2 linked regions of the Homo sapiens genome follow. The protein of the gene in region 1 purifies or fractionates together with the protein of each later gene. This does not show direct contact. Each region holds a gene or a part of one and is shown on either strand. Other genes may lie near its edges.

Region 1 (3,917 bases):
GGTTTGACGTGGTGGGCTATGGCTGCATGACCTGCATTGGCAACAGTGGGCCTTTACCTGAACCTGTGGTAGAAGCCATCACACAGGTAATTGCAGAGGTCCCTGCAGGTCTTCAGAGCAGTTGTTTCTTTTCATGTAATGTGACAAAAATGCTGATATTTTCAAGAAGGTCCATGGAAGCAGGGGATGTGGTTTAGAGTATGATCTTTTGAGTTTAGTTAAAATTACTAGCTGGGTAACCTTGGGCAAGTTAATTAACCTATCTGTGCCTGGGTTTTCACAACTGTATATTGGAGATGATAATAGTATCTATTTTATAGAGTTGTGAGAATTAAGATGATGATAAACATAAGTCACTTAGTGCAGTGTCTGGCACTCAAGTGCTCAGTACTGGCTGGTTTTCACTACAAAGGGCTCTACAGTTGTTTGTTATAGGTATTGGGTTAGTGCAAAAGTAACTGTGATTTTTGCCATTTCAGTGATGAAGACCACAATTACTTTTGCACCAACCCAAATAATTTGAAAATTGGTTCAAAGTGAGACAAGTCTCCACACAAACGAATCTAAACTAAATTGCTTTGGCTTGATTTTTATCCCCAAAATGCTGAACCTTGAAAGATATTATTTGGTTTGCTTTGCATTAATTATAGAATCTACGTATTCTATAATTGTGCATTGTGACTTCCTTTAACGATCAACTGTTAGGTCTTTCCCACCTGTTCTTGGGCCCCAGGCAGCAATAACTAGTATGTTGCCTTCTAACTACCTGATATTTTCTCGTGAGCAGAAATCACTAAACATGTCTCTGCTTCCTTTGACCCAGAGTATCTCCCATGGGGACACCCCAGTGTACCCTTCTCCCCTCTAGTGGGAGAGAACCAAGTGAAAGGGCAGCTTAAAGGACTGTATCCTTGCGATGTGGAAACTCTTGCCAATGGTCTGAGACAAGAAGCCTAGTCAGTATCTTTTAGTGACCTGATTTTTCTCTTGCCTTACTCAGGGAGACCTTGTAGCTGTTGGAGTACTATCTGGAAACAGGAATTTTGAAGGTCGAGTTCACCCCAACACCCGGGCCAACTATTTAGCCTCTCCCCCCTTAGTAATAGCATATGCAATTGCTGGAACCATCAGAATCGACTTTGAGAAAGAGCCATTGGGTAAGATTTTGTTTGTGCAGCCATAATTTTTTTCCAGTGAATTCAGAAATATTACTAGAAGAAACTGCTTTCCTTAATAAGAAATGAAGCATAGAGCCTCCAGGGATAAGACAAAGAAGAGAATAATTTCTTTATTCCCCAATATACAGCTAAGACTTAACTGCAGTAGTTAAAACAAGAATCTACTGAGGGTAAAGGATAACGAAAGGAAAACAGGTGCCAAAAGGAATAGACATCTTGCTATTCTGGTTTCTTCTGTAGTTCCTCCCTTTCTAGCTCTCACTTTAATGATAGGCATTGTTTCAATATATACTCTGTAGAAACATACTGCAGATATTTCAACTTCTCAGAATTCCAAAGAAATGATACATCATTTCCTTTCCCCAGATCAGCTTGCTTGCTCTGCCTGCCTCAATCTATTCTAAGCCGAATAGATAATATGAAAACAATGCCTCTGAAATTTACTTTTAGGAAATCATAACTTTAGACGTACAGTTGATCCTCGTTATTTGTGAGTTCTATGTTTGCAGATTTGCGTAGTCACTAAAATGTATTTTAACCCCCAAATCAGTATTTGTAGTATGTTCACGGTCATTCACAGATCAGCACAAAGGGGTGAAAACTTTATATCATTCAACACACACGTTCTATGCTGAGATCTGATAAGGCGTCACTCTGACTTCTTGTTTCAGCTCTCCTGCGATATATAAGGATCCTTTTCTTGGTCTACGTAGTGCCATGCTTTTTGCATTTTTGTGCTTTTTGTGGTGATTTTGCTGTTCAAAATGGTCCTTGAGCATAGTCCTGAAGTGCTTCTGGTGTTCTTGAGCACAAGCCGACTGTGATGCGTACTGTGTTTAGATAGGCTTCGCTGGAAGTTCAATGTCAGTGAGTCAACAATTGCTATTAAATAAGGTGAATAATAAACCTCACATGAAGCAAGGTTATGTATTGATGGGTGACCAGAGGCTTGCAGGAACCTAACCCTGTATTTCCTCCAGTGGCAGTGATTCCGTATCCAGTCATTCAGTGTTCACACGGGCTTTATAGAACATAACTACCGAGGAGAACGAGGCTTGACTCTGTATAATCATGAAAATTGCATATTAGAAAGTTTTCTCATTAATAAACATTTTTTCCCCAGGAGTAAATGCAAAGGGACAGCAGGTATTTCTGAAAGATATCTGGCCGACTAGAGACGAGATCCAGGCAGTGGAGCGTCAGTATGTCATCCCGGGGATGTTTAAGGAAGTCTATCAGAAAATAGAGGTGAGGTCCCACACTGCCCTCCCCGCCCCAGAGGATCTAAGGGAAAGCTGCTCCCTTTGTGTCCTGTCTGCAGACCTCAAGGCTAACGGAAGTATAAACTATATAAAGTAACATTTATTTCTTCAGATGACTGGGGAGGTGGTTCTCCGTCATTTTTCTCCTGTGACTCGCATTTTTACAAACCCCACCTCCCCCAGATGTTCCCAGATTTGGACAAGTTGGTGACAGCCTAGAGAAGAAAGGCCTCCTCAGGTTCAGCTCTCCAAAACCCCACGCCTTTCTCGGACACCCAGGGGTGTGTGTCAGCTGTGGCGAGGACCCCTGGTGGTCACTATATTGTGTCACTAAGTGGAGTCCATTGGTCGAATGCACCTCTCAGAATGCATTTTTGCACACTTAAAAATAAAGAAATTAAGGCCACTCAGTAGGAAGTGCCAAACTACTGAAATAAAACTTTCCGTGCATTTTACAAATAGGAGGAAATGTGTGGGGCTCAGCATTATATTCTGAGACTCTTGGATATTATTCCTTTCCCCGCCTTCTGCATTCAGCTGACCCAAGGGCTTCTGACTGCGGCTGATGGTTTAAATGAGGGTAGAACTGTCTAGGGGAAGGGGTGATGTAGGTGTGATGTTCACACGCTGCACTCTTCACAAGGTGCTCCTTGGGAGATGGTGTTAGGGAGCTTGGCAGGCATTATGTTAAATGCCTTCCTCCAAAGGCCGAGTTAATGGACCTGTGGACAGAATTCAAACCAATTTTAATGCATAGCAGCTGTCATTTGCTACCCAGTGTTTGTGTGACCTGGAAGGCCACTTCCCAAAACACTCAGAGAGTAATTTCCCCTTTGGTACAATCTGGATTATTATTTCATAAGTTATTGATAAGCATATGCATTAGTTATCTATTGCTGTGATATAGCAATAGATATAGTGAGTTGAAACAACAAACATATATTGTCTCCCATTTTCTGTGGGTCAAGAATCCAGGCACAGCTTCACTGTGTACTTTCACAGGGTTCCAGTAAGATGTCATCTGGGGCTGCAGTCTCTGGAGGAGGGTCCACTTAGGCTCACTCATGTGGCTATTGGCAGGATCAAGTTCCTCAAGGGCTGTTGCACTGAGGTCCTCCGTTTCTCACTGGCTGTTCGCTAGAAGCCTCCCTCAGCACCTTGCTATGAGGGTCTCTTCATGACTCACACATGGTAGCTGGCTTCCATCAGAGCAAGAGAGCAAGAGAGTCAGAAGGCAGGTCTCAATAATCTAATCTAGGAGATAGTCACTAGCTTCAGCCCACACTCAACAGGAGGGGGTCAACTAAGGATGTGAATCCCAGGAGGCAGGATCCCTCCTGCCATCCTAGAAGCTGCCTATCACGGTGCATATGTATGTTGTTGTTTGTTTTTCAGAGACCAGGTCTTGCTTTGTCACCCAGGCTGGAGTGCAGTAGTGTCATCATAGCTCACTGCCACCTCAAATTCCTGAGCTCAA
Region 2 (3,917 bases), on another chromosome or scaffold:
TAAAACAAATTCCTTGAAATGGCCAGTGTCCAAAGTGGCTGTTACTACTTTTCAGCTGATTATAGAGCTTCAAATCTGGGTTACAGTGAAACTGTGTGGATGGACTTTTTTTGTTGTTGTTGCCAAATACCTTTTTAATGTGTCTGGTTCTACAGATGGATACACTAGTGAACAGCACAGACACAAACAGTTGATTGGACAAGACAACATAGCATATTAAACATTAGTAAAAATGAGGAAATTACACAGTGCTATGAACTACCCTCATTCTTTTTTCCAACATATTTACTGAATACTCACTTTATGACAGACATCATTCTAAGTGCTGAGGATAAAACAAAGTGCATGTTCTCATGGAGCTCATTTCTCTATATAACTGGTTCACCTGAGGTCTGATTCTGCATTCCAAGATAGCTGGAGTGAAAGATTAGTATGAGGTAAAGAAATAGAGGGTAAATAAGAAAATGCTCTCTGGAGGTTATTAAAAAATATAGAGGCAAAGTCCTGGCAAAAGAACGAGAAACGGGGTGAAAGGGAGAAGGAGGAAGAGAGAAATTAATCTTTATCAAATATTTTATTATTATTCTATTTCTTAAGCCTTATTCCTGCTTCTTAAGACAGACTGTGAATAAGCCATCTCTGTATCCCAACTAATGCAATGACTCTGGGGGTACTGTCAGATCCAGATTTATATGACAGATTTTTGACTTACTAATTTGTGGGACCCTAGGCAACTACTAGAATGTCTTGAAGACTTAATTTCCTGCAGCACTACCTCATAGAGTTGCTTTAAAAAAGTATTACTAGCTTACAGACGGTACTGTTATAAGTGCTTCAAATATATAAATCCTCATAAAGATTCTGAGGTAGGTATTATTAGCTTCATTTCATGTCAGAGCAAACTGAGGCATAAAGAAGTCATATAGCTTGTTAACGGTTGTATAGCTAGTGTCTGGCAAAACCAGGAATCTTAACTTCCAGAGTCTGTGGTTTAACCACTGTTCACACTGTCTATAATAGCATATAGTAATATAAGATTAGAACTAAATAGGGTGCATTCCACTGCAAAGTTCTTTCTCACCTTCTTCTACTCCATTATTTGTTGACTATTTACTGATCCCCATGTTGTCTTGCAACTGTGATAGATAATAGAGAACAAGGGTGAACACAGCATATCTGGTTCTTGCCCTCCTGGAGGTTCTGGCCATTAAGCAAATAACAATTCCTCCCAAGGTTCTCAGGCTTCCCTGTTTTCTCCTATTTCTCTATCTGTCCAGCAGTACTCCAGCCAACCAATCTAAGACTGACCGGCGTGAGCAGAGAACAGAGTCTCCAGGAGGTCTGTGGCCAGGGCCAGGCGATTTATGGGAAAGAGGCAGACATTTTCCTGGGTTAGTGACCTTGTTTTCTCTCCGAACCTCCGCTTAAAATGGCGGGATTTGTACCAAGGTTCTTTCCCGCACCAACCTTCCATTATTCACCCTTCTCCCCACCCCCAAGGCCCGTCGGGCCTATCCCTGACCCGCGTTCCTGCACTTGAGGTGCATTTCCGCACCTGGATCCCCAGATACTGTTTTTCCCCCACGTTGAGTCTCCCGAATTTCACGAGAACTCTCTCTCGCGGTCTCTGCCCCGCCCCTCGCACCCAGGCCCCGCGCCCGCTGTGGGCTGCCGCCCGGGACCGAAGCTCTCAGAGCCCGCAGCTCTGGTTCACCAACCGCTGGGTGGGAGCCAGGCCCGGCCTTTGAGTGGCGGCCGGGGTGGTCTGCGCTCGGCCCCAGGAAAAATCTGGCACGGGCCAATCGCAGGGAGGCGAAGGGCAGCTCCGGAGGTCCTGGCCAGAAGCATTGGTCACCCAGGCCAAGCAGGCGTCGGGGCGTGGGCACAAGCAGAGCTCGCGGCCCTGACCGCGGCCATTGTGCTTGGCTGCCTCTCCTCAAGGCCGTGGTGGGCAGGGCAGCAACGGGAGAAGCGCCGAGAGCGCCACTGCAACGACTTTCCCCTACCCTCAGCTACTGTGCTTTCATGTAGTGAAAGAAACAGGGAAAAGGTTTGGGTTCCTTCTGCGGCTTATGAAGACGACAAAAAACGAAAAGAGTGGGGGCGGGAGGCAGAAGCCGCGAGCCTCTGCGCGCGCCCGGTCACGTGGGCCGCAGGGATCGCATGGCGGCGGCCTGCGCGCCCCCGCGTCCCCGCCGGCCAAGCCGACCGGGCGCGCGCGCCGACGGGGCGGGCGCATGCGCAAGGGGGCGCGCCGCCTCTGCCCCGCGGCGAGGGTGTCTATGGAGAGGCGGCGGCCGCGGCTGCTGAGGCGGAGGCTGAGGCAGTGGCGATGGCGCCCTTTCCTGAAGAAGTGGACGTCTTCACCGCCCCACACTGGCGGATGAAGCAGCTGGTGGGGCTCTACTGCGACAAGGTAACGGAGCGCTGAGCCTCCCGCTGTGGGCGGTGCGGGCGGCGATGGGGAGCGGGCTGGGTTCTTGGGGCGGCCTGGCCTGCGCCGCGCCCGCAGCCCCGTGCCGTCGCCGCGCGAGTAGCCGCCTGCGCAGCTGTCAGCGCCGCCCGCTCCCGCAGCCTGCCCGCCCGCTGCGAGGCCTTCGCAGAGCCGGCCTGGCCGCCGCCTCGGACGTGCTCTCGGGGCGGGCGGCGTCCCCTGCCGAGGGCCTGGCGGCTGAGGAGGGGCGCTACCGGCGTCACTGGCCGCCCTCGGGCCGGCCCCACCGCCGCGCTGGGACTCCCGCTGCTGCCTCTAAGGAGAGCGGCCCTACCTCCTCGAAGCCCTGGGTGCCCCGGCCGGCCACCTGCGGTGGACTCCCATCTGCACCGAGTAGTTGTTCCCGTCCCCCGTCACTCCCCCGGGCCTGTTCGGGGCTCTCCGTGCAGACACCCACCCATCCTCTGCACCTCTCGCTGGCTTCCTGGCTGGAACTGCAGCGTCTCCCAGCTACCCGGTTCCTTTTACCCCCGGCTTTCTTCACTGGTTTGATTTGGGAGAAAAGCCAAGTTTAGAACTGAAGAACCTTCACTCTTCATGTGTCGTTATCGTTTTCCTTGCAACTTTTATTGCCCTGAACACTTACTGGATGTAGATTTTGTTATAAGACAGCAATTCTCTCTTGGATTTCTTTATATGAGCTCGAATAAAGGGGGCCTCAGGAAAAGTTGGTTTAACTGTGAGAACCATTTTGGGCCCATAATTGGTGCAGCATAAGCTGAAGAGGCACTTTTGTGGAGATGGTTCAGGGCCCTTTGCTAGTGATTTTAAAACAATATTAACATTCCACGTATTTGTCAGTTTATGTTGGGGAAAGTCATGGATATCTGCAAACCTCAGGCAGTCCCGTTTCTTGTGGAAATGATCCAACTAAATAAAGCATTCAAATGACTACTGTTTAAGCATAGAAATCAACTTTTAGGAATTCTCAGAAATTGCATAGCATTATGCAGAACCATTGTCTACAGAAAAGAGGGGTGTTTCATAGCTCAGCCAGGCGATTGGAGGATGCCCAGGGTATTCACTGTTAGGCCACACTCAAGACCAGCAATTTAAAGCAGTGACGTTGAATTTCAAATCTTAGCACTCCATCTTCTCCCTCCCTCCATTCTGAAAATTTAGAAACACCCAGTTCACATGAGTTGGAAACACCAGGACTGTCTAGGACAATGGTTTGCAACCTTGGTTGCTTATTAGCCTTAAACTAAAAACTATTAGAAGTCCTGATGTCTAGGTCACTAAAATTAGGATTTCACCCAGACATCAGGTATAAATGATTAAAGCTCTCCATTTGAGTGCAGTATGCAGCTGAGGGTGAGAACCACTCATCTAGGAGAAGCATGAGGAATGGTTAAGCCATTAAGCAAGAGGGTATATCCCTGAATTTTTTACTTAGCAGTATTATAGTGTTTTTATCCTCTCT

What was found.
Region 2: the proteins of ACO1 (region 1) and FBXL5 purify together in Homo sapiens (affinity purification with western blotting; 3 studies listed by BioGRID, with this or other methods). This does not show direct contact.

Annotation. Positions count from the first base shown.
Region 1 is NC_000009.12:32,429,418-32,433,334, forward strand, and holds part of ACO1 (cytoplasmic aconitate hydratase), read left to right. Parts: intron 1-1; coding exon 2-86; intron 87-1,000; coding exon 1,001-1,157; intron 1,158-2,301; coding exon 2,302-2,426; intron 2,427-3,917. UniProt on the Homo sapiens protein: Bifunctional iron sensor that switches between 2 activities depending on iron availability. Iron deprivation, promotes its mRNA binding activity through which it regulates the expression of genes involved in iron uptake, sequestration and utilization.
Region 2 is NC_000004.12:15,653,703-15,657,619, reverse strand, and holds the start of FBXL5 (F-box/LRR-repeat protein 5), read left to right. Parts: upstream 1-2,262; 5' UTR 2,263-2,332; coding exon 2,333-2,416; intron 2,417-3,917.